Linked DNA regions of Homo sapiens. The protein of the gene in region 2 purifies or fractionates together with the protein of the main gene of each other region. This does not show direct contact. Each region holds a gene or a part of one and is shown on either strand. Other genes may lie near its edges.

What was found. Proteins that work in one complex are often made in the same cells at the same time.
Region 1: the proteins of EGFLAM (region 2) and CLSTN1 purify together in Homo sapiens (affinity purification with mass spectrometry; one large-scale study listed by BioGRID and IntAct). This does not show direct contact.
Region 3: the proteins of EGFLAM (region 2) and MAN2C1 purify together in Homo sapiens (affinity purification with mass spectrometry; one large-scale study listed by BioGRID and IntAct). This does not show direct contact.

Annotation. Positions count from the first base shown.
Region 1 is NC_000001.11:9,742,831-9,748,084, reverse strand, and holds part of CLSTN1 (calsyntenin-1 isoform 1 precursor), read left to right. Parts: intron 1-3,441; coding exon 3,442-3,690; intron 3,691-4,079; coding exon 4,080-4,201; intron 4,202-5,254. UniProt on the Homo sapiens protein: Postsynaptic adhesion molecule that binds to presynaptic neurexins to mediate both excitatory and inhibitory synapse formation.
Region 2 is NC_000005.10:38,456,518-38,461,771, forward strand, and holds part of EGFLAM (pikachurin isoform 1 precursor), read left to right. Parts: intron 1-1,793; coding exon 1,794-1,877; intron 1,878-4,407; exon of another isoform or gene 4,408-4,796; intron 4,797-5,254. UniProt on the Homo sapiens protein: Involved in both the retinal photoreceptor ribbon synapse formation and physiological functions of visual perception.
Region 3 is NC_000015.10:75,357,473-75,362,726, reverse strand, and holds part of MAN2C1 (alpha-mannosidase 2C1), read left to right. Parts: coding exon 1-85; intron 86-273; coding exon 274-384; intron 385-779; coding exon 780-872; intron 873-1,006; coding exon 1,007-1,123; intron 1,124-1,345; coding exon 1,346-1,441; intron 1,442-1,535; coding exon 1,536-1,681; intron 1,682-2,038; coding exon 2,039-2,162; intron 2,163-2,515; coding exon 2,516-2,637; intron 2,638-2,738; coding exon 2,739-2,824; intron 2,825-2,951; coding exon 2,952-3,107; intron 3,108-3,288; coding exon of another isoform or gene 3,289-3,301; coding exon 3,302-3,399; intron 3,400-3,535; coding exon of another isoform or gene 3,536-3,573; coding exon 3,574-3,668; intron 3,669-3,918; coding exon 3,919-4,023; intron 4,024-4,108; coding exon 4,109-4,265; intron 4,266-4,382; coding exon 4,383-4,526; intron 4,527-5,254. UniProt on the Homo sapiens protein: Cleaves alpha 1,2-, alpha 1,3-, and alpha 1,6-linked mannose residues on cytoplasmic free oligosaccharides generated by N-glycoprotein degradation pathways.

The DNA of each region.
Region 1 (5,254 bases), on a different chromosome or scaffold from region 2:
AACCATGAGATTTAGGTTACTGGTTTTCTTTTTTTTTTTTTTAGACAGAGTCTCACTCTGTCACCCAGGCTGGAGTGCAGTGGCGCCATCTCGGCTCACTGCAAGCTCCGCCTCCTGGGTTCACACCATTCTCCCGCCTCAGCCTCCCGAGTAGCTGGGACTACAGGCACCTGCCACCATGCCCGGCTAATTTTTTTGTATTTTTAGTAGAAACGGGGTTTCACCGTGTTAGCCAGGATGGTCTCGATCTCCTGACCTCGTGATCCGCCCACCTCGGCCTCCCAAAGTGCTGATTGCAGGCATGAGCCACCGCGCCCGGCCACTGGTTTATAATTGAAAATTATCCAGATCACTTGAGGTCAGGGGTCTAAGACCAGCCTGATCAACATGATGAAACCCCCGCTCTACTAAAAATAAAAAATTAGCCAGGCGTGGTGCGAGGTGCCTATACTCCCAGCTACTTGGGAGGCTGAGGCAGGAGAATTGCTTGAACCCAGGAGGCTGCAGTGAGCCAAGAGTGTGCCACTACTCTCCAGCCTAGGTGACAAAGCTAGACTTTGTCTTAGAAAAAAAACAATAAATAAGAAGAAAATTATCATGTGGTAAATAAACCAAAGTAGAAAACTAGACATTATGCTGCCACAGTCCAATGATGAGCATATGGGGGTGTTTGGCAACTCTGAATCCAAATATTCATAATTGTCACCTAAATATATTTAAGTAAGGAGGTCTGGCACATTTTCTGTTTTAAACCATGCATGTAAGTATAATATATAAAATTTATTCCGTCTCTCATTTCATGGTATTAAGTGAATTTTTTTTCAGCAGAATAAAGTTAGGAAGAATAGAAATAATTTGAGTGCTTACTATGCACCAGGTACTTTTTTTTTTTTTTTTTTTTTTTTTTTGAGACAGTCTCCCTCTGTCGCCCAGGCTGGAGTGCAGTGGCGCAATCTCACTCACTGCAACGTCTGCCTCCTGGGTTCAAGCGATTCTCCTGCCTCGGCCTCCCAAGTAGCTGGGATTACAGGCATGTGCCATGATGCCTGGCTACTTTTTGTATGTTTAGTAGAGATGGGATTTCACCATGTTGGCGAGGCTCGTCTCCAACTCCTGACCTCAAGTGATCCACCCACCTCGGCCTCCCAAAGTGCTGGGATTATATGCATGAGCCACTGCGCCTGGCCTTACTCCAGGTACTTCTATGTGTGTTTTAGCTTAATGTTCCCAACAAGTCTACGAAGTAGGTGGGTATTGACCTTGTTACAGAGGAATTAAACAATTGAGACTAAAGCAGGTTAAGTAGCTTGCCCAAGCCCACATATTCAGGAGCTGAGGTTCTAGTGTGTGTGTGTGGTTTTTTTTTTTCTTTTGAGACAGAGTCTCACTGTCGCCCAGGCTGGAATGCAATCGTGCTATCTTGGCTCACTGCAGCCTCCACTTCCTGTGTTTAAGTGATTCTCCCACCTCAGCCTCCCAAGTAGCTGAGATTACAGGCATCTGCCATCATGCCTGGCTCATTTTTGTATTTTTGTAGAGACAGAGTTTCACCATATTGGCCAGGCTGGTTTGAACTCTTGACCTCAGTTGATCTGCCTGCCTCAGCCTCTCAAAGTTCTGGGATTACAGGCGCAAGCCACCACGTCTAGCTTCAGGAGCTAAGATTTGGACCAAGGTCTTCTGTTACTCAAGAGGCCAGGCTGGTCCAGCCAAGGCCTGCTGCTCCGAGTAATAGCTTAGTCAAGAAGGAGCTTGCAAAATCTTTTCCTGTGGACAAAAAAAAATTTTTTTAATTTGAACATGGCAATACATAAGAATGGTTGGAAAACATTTTTTATGTTTTTTGACTTAGTAATTTCATTTCTAGGAATTTATTTTAAGGGAATAATCATGGAGACACATAAAGCTGTGCATGCAGGTGAGGTTTATAATAGGAAAAGGTTAGGGACAGCCTCTGTGCCCACCTGGGAGGCTGGTCAGTAGGTGATGCTGTATCTGTACAATGAAATGCTATTCAGGCCGAGCGCGGTGGCTCACACCTATAATCCCAGCACTTTGGGAGTCTGAGGCAGATGGATCGCTTGAGCCCAGTAGTTGGAGACTAGCTTGGACAACATGGCGAAACCCCGTCTCTACAAAAACACAAAAATTAGCCGGGCATGGTGGCACACACCTGTGGTCCCAGCTACTTGGGAGGCTGAGGTGGGAGGATTGCTTGAGCTCAGGAGGTCAAGGCTGCGGTAAACCAACGCTGCACCACTGCACTGCAGCCTGGGCGAGAGAGGAGACCCTGTCTCAAAAAAAAAAAAAAAAAAAAAACAACTATTCAGATAGTTTAAATTACATGATAGAAGAATATTGCTAGGAATATATATGTATTATGCACATACATAGCAGGACTCCACTTTTATTGTATTTGTTTATATATTTTTGAGACAGGGTCGCACTCGCCCAGGCTGGAGTATAGTGGCACAGTCACAGCTCACTGCAGCCTCAACCTCCTGGGCTCAAGTGATCCTCCCATCTCAGCCTCCCAAGTAGCTGGGACTACAGGGATGCACCACCACACCTGGCTAATTTTTGTGTTTTTTGTATTGACAGGGTTTTGCCATGTTGTCCAGGCTGGTCTCCAACTCCTGGGCTCAAGCAATCTGTGTGCCTTGGCCTCCCAAAGTGCTGGGATTACAGGTGTGAGCCACCAAGCCCTGCCAGGACTCCATTTTTCTAAGAAAACGCATCATTTTTGTGTATATTTACCAAAGGAGGACTGGGTGTTTATACTAAAATGGTATAATTTGAATCAGATTACAAGAAATGCTTCCTTTCCCTTCCTTTTTGTTTTTTTTTTTTTTTTTTGAGACGGAGTCTCGCTCTGTTGCCCAGGCTGGAGTGCAGGGGTGCGATCTCGGCTCACTGCAAGCTCCGCTTCCCGGGTTCACGCCTGGCCCTTTCCCTTCCTTAAACAAATCCATGGTTGTTATTTTTATTTTTGTAATTTAAAACCCTGATTTTTGAAGAGAAGTAAACTGAAAGGGCCAAGCGTGGTGGCTCACGCCTGTAATCCCAGCACTTTTGGAGGCCGAGTCAGGCGGATCACGAGGTCAGGAGTTCCAGGCCAGCCTGGCCAACATGGTGAAACTCCGGCTCTCCTGAAAATGCAAAAATTAGCCAGTTTTAATGGGGCGCGCCTGTAATCCCAGCTACTCGGGAGGCTGAGGCAGGAGAACAGCTTGAACCCGGGAGGTGGAGGTTGCAATGAACCGAGATCGCGCCACTGTACTCCAGCCTGGGGACAAAGCAAGACTCTGTCTCGAAAGAAAAAAAAAAAGTAAACTGGAGCCAGCAGATTGCCTAAGTGTAAGACAAGCACGTGCCTGGGGGCTTGAGGTGCGCGGGACCTCTGGCTCCTCACATGAGTTTCACCGAGCACTGTGGCTTCAGGTGCGGCCGCGGGCACTGCCGAGCTGCTGCCATCCCCGAGTGGATCCCTCAACTGGACCATGGGCCTGCCCACCGACAATGGCCACGACAGCGACCAGGTGTTTGAGTTCAACGGCACCCAGGCAGTGAGGATCCCGGATGGCGTCGTGTCGGTCAGCCCCAAAGAGCCGTTCACCATCTCGGTGTGGATGAGACATGGGCCATTCGGCAGGAAGAAGGAGACAATTCTTTGCAGTTCTGATAAAACAGGTAGGGTAATAGCTCTGCAAGCGATGCCAGGCCCCAGTGTCCAGTAGGGTGGGTGCCAGCGGCAGGCTCCCTCTCCTTTCCCAGGGTCCCCTGCCAGCCTGGTGCTCGTAGGCCATGTGCCATGCTGTGTGCCTGGGGCACTTGGTTCCCTAGAGCCACGGCCTGGGCATTTGGGTATTAGCTGTTGTTGCTCAGTGGGGTCCACGGTGATCACAGGCTCCGCCTCTCAGGAAAGCCCAAGTGTATTTGTTTCTAAGCCCTGCCTTGGCTTAGCCGAAGAGTTCATTTATGCAGATGAAATTGTGTCTTCAAAATCCATTCAAGAAACAGCTTTAATTTCTCCTTTGGATCTTTAGTTGGCAATTTACCCATAGAAACTGCCTTTGCAGATATGAATCGGCACCACTACTCCCTCTATGTCCACGGGTGCCGGCTGATCTTCCTCTTCCGTCAGGATCCTTCTGAGGAGAAGAAATACAGACCTGCAGAGTTCCACTGGAAGTTGAATCAGGTGAGTGAATTGAAAACGCACTAATAGGGCCGGGCAAGGTGCTCACACCTATAATCCCAGCACTTTGGGAGGCTGGGGCACGAGGATTGCTTGAGCCCAGGGGTTCGAGACCAGCCTGGGCAACATTACTAAGATCCTGTCCCTACAAAAAAAAAAAAACCCACGAAAATTAGCTGGGCATGGTGGCACATGCCTGTAGTCCTGGCTACTTGGGGAGCTGAGGTGGGATGATTGATGGAGCCCAGGAGGTCAAGGCTGTAATGAGCTGCGATTGTGCCACTTCACTCCAGCCTGGATGACAGAGTGAGACCCCGTCTCCAAAGAAAAAGAAAAACACTGTCATCTTCTAAGAGAGAGTAAGCAGGTACTGCAACCTTGCACATGGATGGCTGTGTATAGTCAGTGTATATTTATAATTTTATGAGTAGCTGGGACTACAGACACATGCCACCACACCCAGCTAATTTTTGTATTTCTAGTAGAGATGAGGTTTCACCATATTAGCCAGGCTAGTCTTGAACTCCTGACTTCAACTGATGCACCCACCTCAGCCGCCCAAAGTGCTGGGATTGCAGGCCTGAGCCACTGTGCCCGGCCGCAAAGCTAATTTTCTAGCAGTTGCTGTGATAGAAAGCAAATATCCTGTGAAAAACCCCACGTGCTACAGGAAACGAGAGAGCACTGTAAAATTAGAACCCTCTATTAAAATCAGAATAGATCATTTTTTCTTTTGATGTAGAGTTGGGATGAGAAGGAAACCTTTGGCCTTATCATCATTTTATTTGTCTCATGGAGTTAGTGGACAAAAGCTGACATATGTTATATGTGCCTGCAGTTGCTAAAATATAATAGTGTCTAAAAATAATCATAGGATAGATAAAAGTAAAAGAGAATAAATGAGAAAGGAAAAAGTATATGATAGTGGAAAGTTGAAGTGGGTGTCCAGTTGGTAGCATTTGTCTCTTTTTTTTTTCCCCCGAGACTGAGTCTCGCTTTGTTGCCCAGGCTGGAGTGCAGTGGAGATCTTGGCTCACTGCAACCTCCACCTCCCGG
Region 2 (5,254 bases):
GGGAAAACTCATTAGAAAACAGTGGACTTTTCAGGGTCAGAGTGGCAGCTTTGTCCCAGGGTTTGTCAAGTCACCCCAAGTCCTATTCTTGGTTAAATGTCAATGGGCTGTGTGAGTTCTTCGAGCCTCCATTATTAAAGGAATGATCTATGGTGCTTTCTCTGGAGAAAGCCAAGCACTTTCTATTCTTGCTGTTTTCTCAGAATGAGTACATGCCAGTGCTTGTTAACTCATCCAGATTTTCTCTCGACATCCCTCTCTCTTGGGCAATGAGGTGAAGGAGAGATATGTCCTCTTACAAAATGAGGAGGGAGTCATCCCAGGTGGAACATACTTCCCTTCAAAAGCTTGATGGCCTAGGCTTTATTGTATTATCCAGGGAAAGTCTGGGCAGTTGGCCCAGTGCCCGGGCTAGAGTAGTCACTCACTAAATATTTGTCGAATTAAATTTAATTAGAATAATTGAATGAACACTGGATTAAGGGGGATATTTCTCTCTGGTAACAACATGTTCATGTTTTCTGAAACCCTTATGGTATCGGGGTATCTGGGAACTGAAATAGAAAATAGGAAGCCACTAGAGAAACCTGATAGCAGAGTTAAATGGATAAGGGCAGAGGATACACCAAGTTCAAGTTCTACATTAGGTTTGTGATTTTAGGCAAATTCCCTTAATCTCTCTGGGGCTCACCCTACTCTGCAATGTTCATTTTTTTTTAAAAAGTGAAAACAGATGCATTCATTTCTTAGGGCTCTGATAATACATGACCACAAATTAGGTGGCTTAAAACAATAGAAGTGGGCTCTCTCACAGTTCTGAAGGCTAGAAATCCACCATGCAGTGCAAGGGTTGGCTTCTTCTGGAGGGTCTCAGGGAGAATCGGCTCCATGCCTGTCCCCCAGGTTCTGGTGGTGGCTGGCAGCCCTTGGCATTCCTTGGCTTGGAGATGCCCCATTCCAGTCCCTGCCTCCAGTTTCCCATGGCTTTCCCTGTCTCTGTGTGTCTCTGGCTCCATGTCCAAATCTCTTCTCATAAAGATACCAGTTATATTGGATCCATGGCTGCCCTAATCCAGTATGACTTCATTTTAACTAATGAATCTGCAAAGACCCTATTTTCAAATAAGTAACATTCTGAGGCTCTGGGTAGACATGAATTTGGCGGGTGGAGGGAGGGGGCAGACCATCATCGTAACATAGTATAAAACATTACACATGATAAAGCCCTTCTTGTTATTCCTGATACTTTAGTACTGATGTTGCCTTACATGAGGGCATTAAAAAACAATCTTGATAACATTATGCTAAGTGAAGTAAGCCAGTCACAGTCACAAAAAAGACAAATACTCTATGATGCCACTCATATGAGGTATGTAGAAGAATCAAATCCACAGAGTCAGAAGGTAGAAGGCTGGTTGTCAGGGGCTGGGGGGAGGGAAGAATGAGGGGTTATTATTTAATGCAATGCTTTTGTTTTGTAAGATGAGTTTTGGAAATTGCCAGCCCAACAATATGAATATGTACTTAATGCTGCGGCACTGTATGCTTAAAAATGGTTACGATGGCCATGGTTATGTTACATATATTTTACCATAATTTAAAAGTTTAATAATTTTTAATTTCATGAACCAGCCTAGAAACCCAACAACTTTTATAACACTCTTGTTTTTTGTTAAGGAAACTGCACTCTGAGTTGCAAAGAACTTTTGCCCTGAGAATCGTCTGTGAACCGTGTCTGCTTATGCCTCAGTGTTTTATTCTGTTCTCTGTCTTCTTCTTCTCCAATGCCTTAGCTATAACCTGGGCAGTGGTGTGGCATCCATCATGGTGAATGGCTCCTTCAACGATGGTCGGTGGCACCGAGTTAAGGCCGTTAGGTGAGTCCCTCCCGCAGCATGAGGCAGAGCCAGAGCTGAGCAGTGGTGGGATGTGGTGTCCAGTTCCCTTGTAGTCCCACTGTCCTGTTCCCCAACTTTGCCTGGCATCCTAGTTACCCCTGATCCAGGGCATTCAGGGAATTTTCTACCAATTCCCGCTGTGCCCTACATTGACACTATCAGGCCAGGGAAACTGAACCCCCAAACCTTCATTAAGCAGTAACCTTCTGGAGAAGAAACCTTTTGATGGCTGATCTGGAAGAACCTTGAGAGTTCAGTGTATGTGGACTTTAAAGAATGTTTGGGCCGGGCATGGTGGCTGACACCTGGAATACCAGCACTTGGGGAGGCCGAGGTGGGTGGATCACCTGAGCTCAGGAGTTTGAAACCAGCCTGAGTTACATGGCGAAACCCTGTCTCTACAAAAAATACAAAAATTGGCTGGATGTGGTGGCACACGCCTGTAATCCTAACTACTCGGGAGGCTGAGGTGGGAGGACCGCTTAAGCCTGGGAGGTGGAGGTAGCAGGATCATGCCATTGCACTCCAGCCTGGGTGACAGAGTGAGACCCCATCTCAAAAAAAAAAAAAGACTTTCAAATCTCATTGTACAGGCAATCCTCCCCCCTCCCTCTGGCTTTTTTTTGTTTGTTTTGTTTTGAGACAGGTTCTCGCTCTGTCACCTAGGCTGGAGTACAGTGGTGTCATCATGGCTCAGTGCAGCCTCGCTTGACCTCCCAGGCTCAGGCAGTCCTCCCACTTCAGCCTCTTGAGTAGCTGGGACCACAGGTGTGCACCATCTGCCTTGCTATGTTGCCAGGGCTGGTCTCAACCTCCTGGCCTCAAGTGATTCTCCCACCTTGGCCTCCCAAAGTGTTGGGATTACAGGCATGAGCCACTGCACCTGGCCACTTTTTTTTTTTTTACACATTACCTAAACCTTAGAACCTGACTGTATTTCACTCAGCCCCAATTACATATCTCCCCCATCACAGAGGTAATCACCATCCTGACTTCTGATTAACTTTGGATGAATCATTCCTTTGCTCTTCTTTATATAATAGTTTTACTATTAATACCTTTGTCCATATTTCTAACAACATATTTTCAGAAACGAAATAGCAGGCTGAAACTTAGAAATGTCAATCTCGCAAGTTAGATGAAGGTCCCAGGAGAAGATAAGCTGAAATGAAGGTCTGGTTGGGGTTCCCTGAGAATTTATCATAACCCTTTCTGGGGAAGCCAGTGGGTAAAGTCATGAGTGAGGCCTGGGAAACATGGCGCCCACCATGGCTACTTTCCTACTCAGCTCCCATATAGGCTGCAATGGGGAGAGACTTGCTGGGCCCCCAACCCCTGGCTGCTGGGCCCCCAACCCCTGGCTGCTGGGCCCCCAACCCTGGCTGTTGGGCCTGCCTTTGAAACCCTAGAGGAAATGGGGATACAGAGGCAGATCTGTGCCTCTCAGCTTCCCAGATGGTCTAGAAAGCCCTTGAGACAGAGGTTGATTTTGATGAAGTCTCAACTCTAACTTTCTGAAAAAAGAAATGTTGTCCCATCATGAATATCCACATGCTTGGATTTCAAATAGTTTCTAGACTACAAGTTAAAAATTCAGAGCCCAGCCTAACTCCAAAATACTCCAAACTCTATGGCTTCTAACTTCTTCATTTCTGCCTCTTACCCATCTTTAAAGGGGCTTGGCCAGAGACATCCAAAGGAATATGAAATGCTTGAGCTCTTTACCTCTAACCACACTTGATCCCTACAAATCCCCACCCTGGGAACATCAGGGAACAACACCCTTCTCCCAGTTTCCTTGGGTGGAGATCATTGGTAGAATACTCACACATTGTGGAATAATTTTTAAGCCTTCCCAGTTGTTGTTGGGGTTTGATTATGTGTATCAAGATACACTCTGGTGAGGATACCAGGCACTTCCTAGACATCTAAGGAAACTGATGTTAAATGATCTTCCCCTAGACTATACAACTGTTTGTGGGAAAAGCCAAGATTAGAATCCCAGCTCAAAGCCCTTTCCATCCTACCCCATGATGAAACCCACCCAAAGCTAGGATTTCAGATGTTTGGGAGGGATAAGGCAGTGGAATGTTCTACAGGAAGAATTTCACATGTCAGAGTGTCAAGCTGGGCACCATGCAGATGGCTTAGCAGACTTGGCTTTTCCTGTTGGCATCATGGATACCTCTGCTGGTGGGTCTTAGGTTGCAATGAGGGCTGAACAGAAGGAGTCGAGCCCAGGAACTAGATGAATGGGAGGATTCCAGCAGATACTGTGAGTTGTGAGCAGACAGGCCTAGAAGGGAAGAGTTCTCAGGGGGAACTGGGTCAAGGCCATGGATATCAATTATGGCAAGAAGGATTGAGCAGATACCTTAATTCTCTGTAGCAGGCTCCAGGGTTAGAGATAGGAGTGTCAATGAAAAGGAGATTGCCCAGGGGGCCTTGCTTTGGACAGTGTCTTGCTCTGGGGCATCCTGCTCTTGCAGGCATTAATCCCAGCAGAAAAGAGAAAATAAATTCCAGTTTATTAAACATCTCCAGTTGCCAGGTACTTTTCATACTTTGTCTCAATATTCACAGCAACTTAGGTTTTATAATCTTCATTTTATGGATAAAAATGATAATGATATTGATAACAATAACAACACACTCCTCTACCAGTCTTTATAGAGCAAGATGTGTATCAGGTATCATGCCCTGTGCTTTGTACGCATAACATCTGATCTCCACAATAATCTCGGGAGATGGGCATAGCTATTCCCATCTTAGGTGAGGATGCTGAAGCTCCACAGATTCACTGTTCATTCATCATCTGGGATGAGCCTTATATCATTCCAGACACAGGAGATACCTCATTGAAGAAAATTAACATCCTTGCCTTGATGGTCTTGCATTCTAATGGGAAGCAACAGACAATAAGTAATAAACATGATAAAGAAGCATGTTATTATGCTAGAAGGTGATGCCACATTTTTTCAAATCTAAGATGCCATTGATTATAAGGTATATCTTCATTTTAGATATAAAAAATGAAAAACTCTTAGACTTTATGAACTAGAGTAAGTAGAAAAAAATGGAATATTTTAGAGTAATTAATTTTTTTTTTTAAAGGCAGGGCAAGCAAGGCAAGCTGTTGCGGGTTCTGCCTGTCACAGCATTCAGATACAGGATTCTAAGAAAGCACTTCCCAAATGGGAAGTTTGTGGTCTCAAAGATGGGGACAGAACAAGAGAAAGTTCTGTAAATCTCTAGAAGAGTTGCTATCAAGAAGTGAAGCCTGAGTGAGTCCACCCCCTAGTGCTATAGAAGCAAATGTATTTGCTTGAACAAGGCTCATGGGGCTGGATAGGTTT
Region 3 (5,254 bases), on a different chromosome or scaffold from region 2:
GACTGTGAGGAAATGTGCCCGGAGCTGGGTGACCGCCCTGCAGCTCATGGAGCGGAACCCTGAGTTCATCTTTGCCTGCTCCCAGGTCAGAGGGACAGCTGTGAGGGAGGAGGGAAGCACGTGGCCCTCCCTGGAGCTCCACAGGCCCTGAAGGCTTCCCAGGCCTGGGGTCAGGGCTGCTCCTCACCCTCAGCCACACACTGAGTCCCATATGCTCAGTCCTGGGTGGGGCCCTTGTCACTCTGGTCCCAGCTCCCTTCAACCTGCCCACAGGCGCAGCAGCTGGAATGGGTGAAGAGCCGCTACCCTGGCCTGTACTCCCGCATCCAGGAGTTTGCGTGCCGTGGGCAGTTTGTGCCTGTGGGGGGCACCTGGGTGGAGATGGTAAGTGCACTGGGCACTCCTCAGCCTTGAACTGTATGACAACAGCCTTCCCTCAGGTAGCCCCGCCCTCCCGGCTTTGCTGGTGAGTTTCCACGGGCCACTCATCCCCGCTGTGTGGCAGGGCTGGCTCATTAGTCCCTGGGATCTCAAGGCCTGGGACTTCAAGGGGGAGGAGAGCCTCCAGCGCTGTGACAAGTTGCATGGCCTAGTCCTGGGCACCCCCTCAGGCAGATGGACAGTCAGGCCTGAAGGACAGGGGCCCTTCCTGAGTTCTGGCTGTAACTCCCATGTTTGAGCAGCCCTGGCTTCTCCTGCAGGGATTGGGTTGGCCTGAGCGCCTGCCTGCTCCCCGTCCAGCGCTGACCTGGGCTGCCTCCCACTTCCTTCACTGCCAGGATGGGAACCTGCCCAGTGGAGAGGCCATGGTGAGGCAGTTTTTGCAGGGCCAGAACTTCTTTCTGCAGGAGTTTGGGAAGATGTGCTCTGAGGTAGGCTGAGAGCTGCTACACCAGGCTGTGGGCGAGTGGGGCTGGCGCTCGACTTGGAGTGCTGAGGGGCTGAGGCTGGGGTGAGTCCGCCTGGAGCTCTGGTTCCTGCACTCCAGGATCCTCTTTCTCCACAGTTCTGGCTGCCGGACACCTTTGGCTACTCAGCACAGCTCCCCCAGATCATGCACGGCTGTGGCATCAGGCGCTTTCTCACCCAGAAATTGAGCTGGAATTTGGTGAACTCCTTCCCAGTAAGCAGGCCCCCGGGGGGTCAGGGTCAGAGTGGGCCTCAGTCCCGCCTGGCCCATTTGCCTCTCCCCCTTATTGTGGGGTCCTAGACAGACCACCAAACCCTCACTCTGCCTCTGCCAGGGTCACATAGCAGGCAGGGGCAGGACCAAGTCTGGAAGGCCTGGCTCTGCCTCAGCCCTGACTCTGGCCTCTCTGCCCTGCTTCTGTTTCCCTGCTGGTAGCACCATACATTTTTCTGGGAGGGCCTGGATGGCTCCCGTGTACTGGTCCACTTCCCACCTGGCGACTCCTATGGGATGCAGGGCAGCGTGGAGGAGGTGAGGGGTCACCTAGGGTGGTGGGGTAGGGGCAGGCTGGAGAGGGCTGGCTTGTTCCAGGCTGATCCATGCTGGCCTGCCCTCACCTGTCTAGGTGCTGAAGACCGTGGCCAACAACCGGGACAAGGGGCGGGCCAACCACAGTGCCTTCCTCTTTGGCTTTGGGGATGGGGGTGGTGGCCCCACCCAGACCATGCTGGACCGCCTGAAGCGCCTGAGCAATACGGATGGGCTGCCCAGGTCAGGCCAGGCCTTGGCTCTCCTTTAGCCCCACCCTGGGCCCTTGCCATGAGCCCTGCCTTCCCTCAGACATTGGGCCCAACCCCTCCTCTGGACCTTGTCCTGTCCCAATCCTAGACCACGGGTTCCTCCAAACTTCCACCCTGGGGGTGGGTGGGGGAGAAGCTGAAGCTGGTAAGGGCTCCAGCCCATCAGAGAGAGAGGCTCTCCTAGGGCGTCCAGGGCTGGCCATCTGTGAACGGGGAGCTTTCTGGAGTGGCTCCTCTCTGTAGGAGCTGGATCCTTTGCTTTGGTGTGGAAGAAGGGTGAGCCATGTGGTCTCCAAGGCTGGGAGACCTAGGCTTGTGGTCTCCTCAGGGTGCAGCTATCTTCTCCAAGACAGCTCTTCTCAGCACTGGAGAGTGACTCAGAGCAGCTGTGCACGTGGGTTGGGGAGCTCTTCTTGGAGCTGCACAATGGCACATACACCACCCATGCCCAGGTCAGGGGGAGGTTGCAGGGCTGTGCAGGGAGGGTGTGCCCTTGATCTGCAGAGGGTCAGAGAAGGCAGCAGGGGACAGAGCCCAGGCCAGATCTAGGGGAAGAGAAGTTTGGAGGAGAGAAGTTCAAGACCTGGGTTGGTCAAGAAAGCTTGAAGGAGGCAGAAACCCCTGAAGAAAGAAGGGTTTGGGCTGCGGGGAGAAGAGGGAAGGCATTTAAGGCAGGTCACCCGCCAGAGGCCTTCTCCACGAGGCCCTTGGTGAGTCCTCAGGGATTCTGAGCAAGGGAGGGCTTTGGAAGGTGTCCTGGGACAGCTAAGCAGGCTCCAGACTAATCTTCCCATCCTGGGCTCAGATCAAGAAGGGGAACCGGGAATGTGAGCGGATCCTGCACGACGTGGAGCTGCTCAGTAGCCTGGCCCTGGCCCGCAGTGCCCAGTTCCTATACCCAGCAGCCCAGCTGCAGCACCTCTGGAGGTCAGCCCAGTTCTGTCCCTGCCATCCACCTGACTGCTCACTGCAGTTACCTCTGTGCCTGCCCCTCCCAGCCTTCCCATCCCTGCCCTTGGCCCCTGCAGGCTCCTTCTTCTGAACCAGTTCCATGATGTGGTGACTGGAAGCTGCATCCAGATGGTGGCAGAGGAAGCCATGTGCCATTATGAAGGTTAGGCTCACAATAGTCCTGCCTGCTCTCTCCAACCCCAGGGCTGAGCCCAGAGTGTCCCCTGTGGGATACCCATGGGCACATTCCAGACCTGTTGCCCACCTATGACCAGCCAGTCTTTCCTCAGACATCCGTTCCCATGGCAATACACTGCTCAGCGCTGCAGCCGCAGCCCTGTGTGCTGGGGAGCCAGGTCCTGAGGGCCTCCTCATCGTCAACACACTGCCCTGGAAGCGGATCGAAGTGATGGCCCTGCCCAAACCGGGCGGGGCCCACAGCCTAGGTACGAGCTGAGGGGAAGGGTTGCTACTGCAGCAGGAAGGATGGAGGCCAGACAGATCAGGCCTGGGATACCCCGAGGGATCTGGGTGCCCCTGACTGGAGAGTAGTAGCACATCTTCCACCAACCCATCCCCACCTGCGCAAGCTTCCTGAAAGGTCAGGAAGGCTGCACTGATGCCCAGGCCTCACCCCCAGCCCTGGTGACAGTGCCCAGCATGGGCTATGCTCCTGTTCCTCCCCCCACCTCACTGCAGCCCCTGCTGCCCCAGCAGCCTGTGTTCGTAGTGCAAGAGGTGAGTCCTGCATGCCCTGGGGGGCAGGAACTGTGCTGGGATACTTTCTTACAACTGAGGGTCCTGAGCTCCCCTGTCTGGAGCAAGTGGTGAGGCGGGGCTGGGGTTGGGGTGGGAAGACTTTTGGTGTGGGAAGCCCCTACAGACTCAGCCTCAAGGCCTCCTCCCACAAAGACTGATGGCTCCGTGACTCTGGACAATGGCATCATCCGAGTGAAGCTGGACCCAACTGGTCGCCTGACGTCCTTGGTCCTGGTGGCCTCTGGCAGGTGCCAAATCCTCATTGCCCTTTCCCAGTGCCTGGCAAGTAGACCCCAGGCCATTTCCTCTCTCCCCTTGCCACAACACTGCCCACAGCAGCCCACCAGTGGCTCTGGGCTGGAACCCACACATGGAGCAGGGCAGGCTGGGCAGTAGTCCCCTGTCCACTGGGTCTACTCACTCCACCCTACCCCACCAAGAGCAGCTGGAGACAGCGAGGTCAGTTGGTTGTACAGCACCAATCCCATGTCCTTCCAGGGAGGCCATTGCTGAGGGCGCCGTGGGGAACCAGTTTGTGCTATTTGATGATGTCCCCTTGTACTGGGATGCATGGGACGTCATGGACTACCACCTGGAGACACGGTATAGGCTGGGCAGCATGTGGGGATGGTGGAGGTGGTGGGAACACAGGCTGCTCTGGATCAGTATGTCCACCCCTGTCCCATAGGAAGCCTGTGCTGGGCCAGGCAGGGACCCTGGCAGTGGGCACCGAGGGCGGCCTGCGGGGCAGCGCCTGGTTCTTGCTACAGATCAGCCCCAACAGTCGGCTTAGCCAGGAGGTTGTGCTGGACGTTGGCTGCCCCTATGTCCGCTTCCACACCGAGGTAGTCGGGGGGTAGGGGGTGGCTGTTTTCCCCAAGTGTGCTTGGTAAGGAGGGGCCAGCCCCAGGCCTTGGTGTGTCTCTTCCTTCCCTGACTCCCACCCTCCTTCCCACTCCCAGGTACACTGGCATGAGGCCCACAAGTTCCTGAAGGTGGAGTTCCCTGCTCGCGTGCGGAGTTCCCAGGCCACCTATGAGATCCAGTTTGGGCACCTGCAGCGACCTACCCACTACAATACCTCTTGGGACTGGGCTCGATTTGAGGTCTGACATGGCAGGGTGGGAGTGGCCTTGGACTCCTCCCTGGCTGGGGAGACTGCTTGTGTGGAACAGGCTGGGGAGGAAGAGGATAATCAACATTTGCTGCTTCCTAACGTGTGTGCCAGGCATTGCACTAAATGCTTTACATTGGCAAGGCACAGTGGCTCACGCCTGTAATTCCAGCACTTTGGGAGGCCGAGGTGGGTGGATCACCTGAGGTCAGGAGTTCAAGACCAGCCTGGCCAACATGGTGAAACGCCATCTCTACTAAAAATACAAAAATTGGGCCGGGCGTGGTGACTCACGCCTGTAATCCCAGCAGTTTGGGAGGCTGAGGTGGGTGGATCACGAGGTCAAGAGATCGAGACCATCCTGGCTAACACGATGAAACCCTGTCTCTACTAAAAATACAAAAATTTAGCCGGGTGTGGTGGTGGGCGCCTGTAGTCCCAGCTACTTGGGAGGCTGAGGCAGGAGAATGGCGTGAATCTGGGAGGCAGAGCTTGCAGTGAGCCAAGATCGTGCCACTGCACTCCAGCCTGGGCGACAGAGCGAGACTCTGTCTCAAAAAAAAAAAAAAAAAAAATACAAAAATTGGCCAGGCGCAGTGTTCTCAGGCCTATAATCCCAGCACTTTGGAAGGCCGAGGTGGGCGGATCACGAGGTCAAGAGATCGAGACCATCATAGACAACATGGTGAACCCCCATCTCTACTAAAAATACAGAAAAAT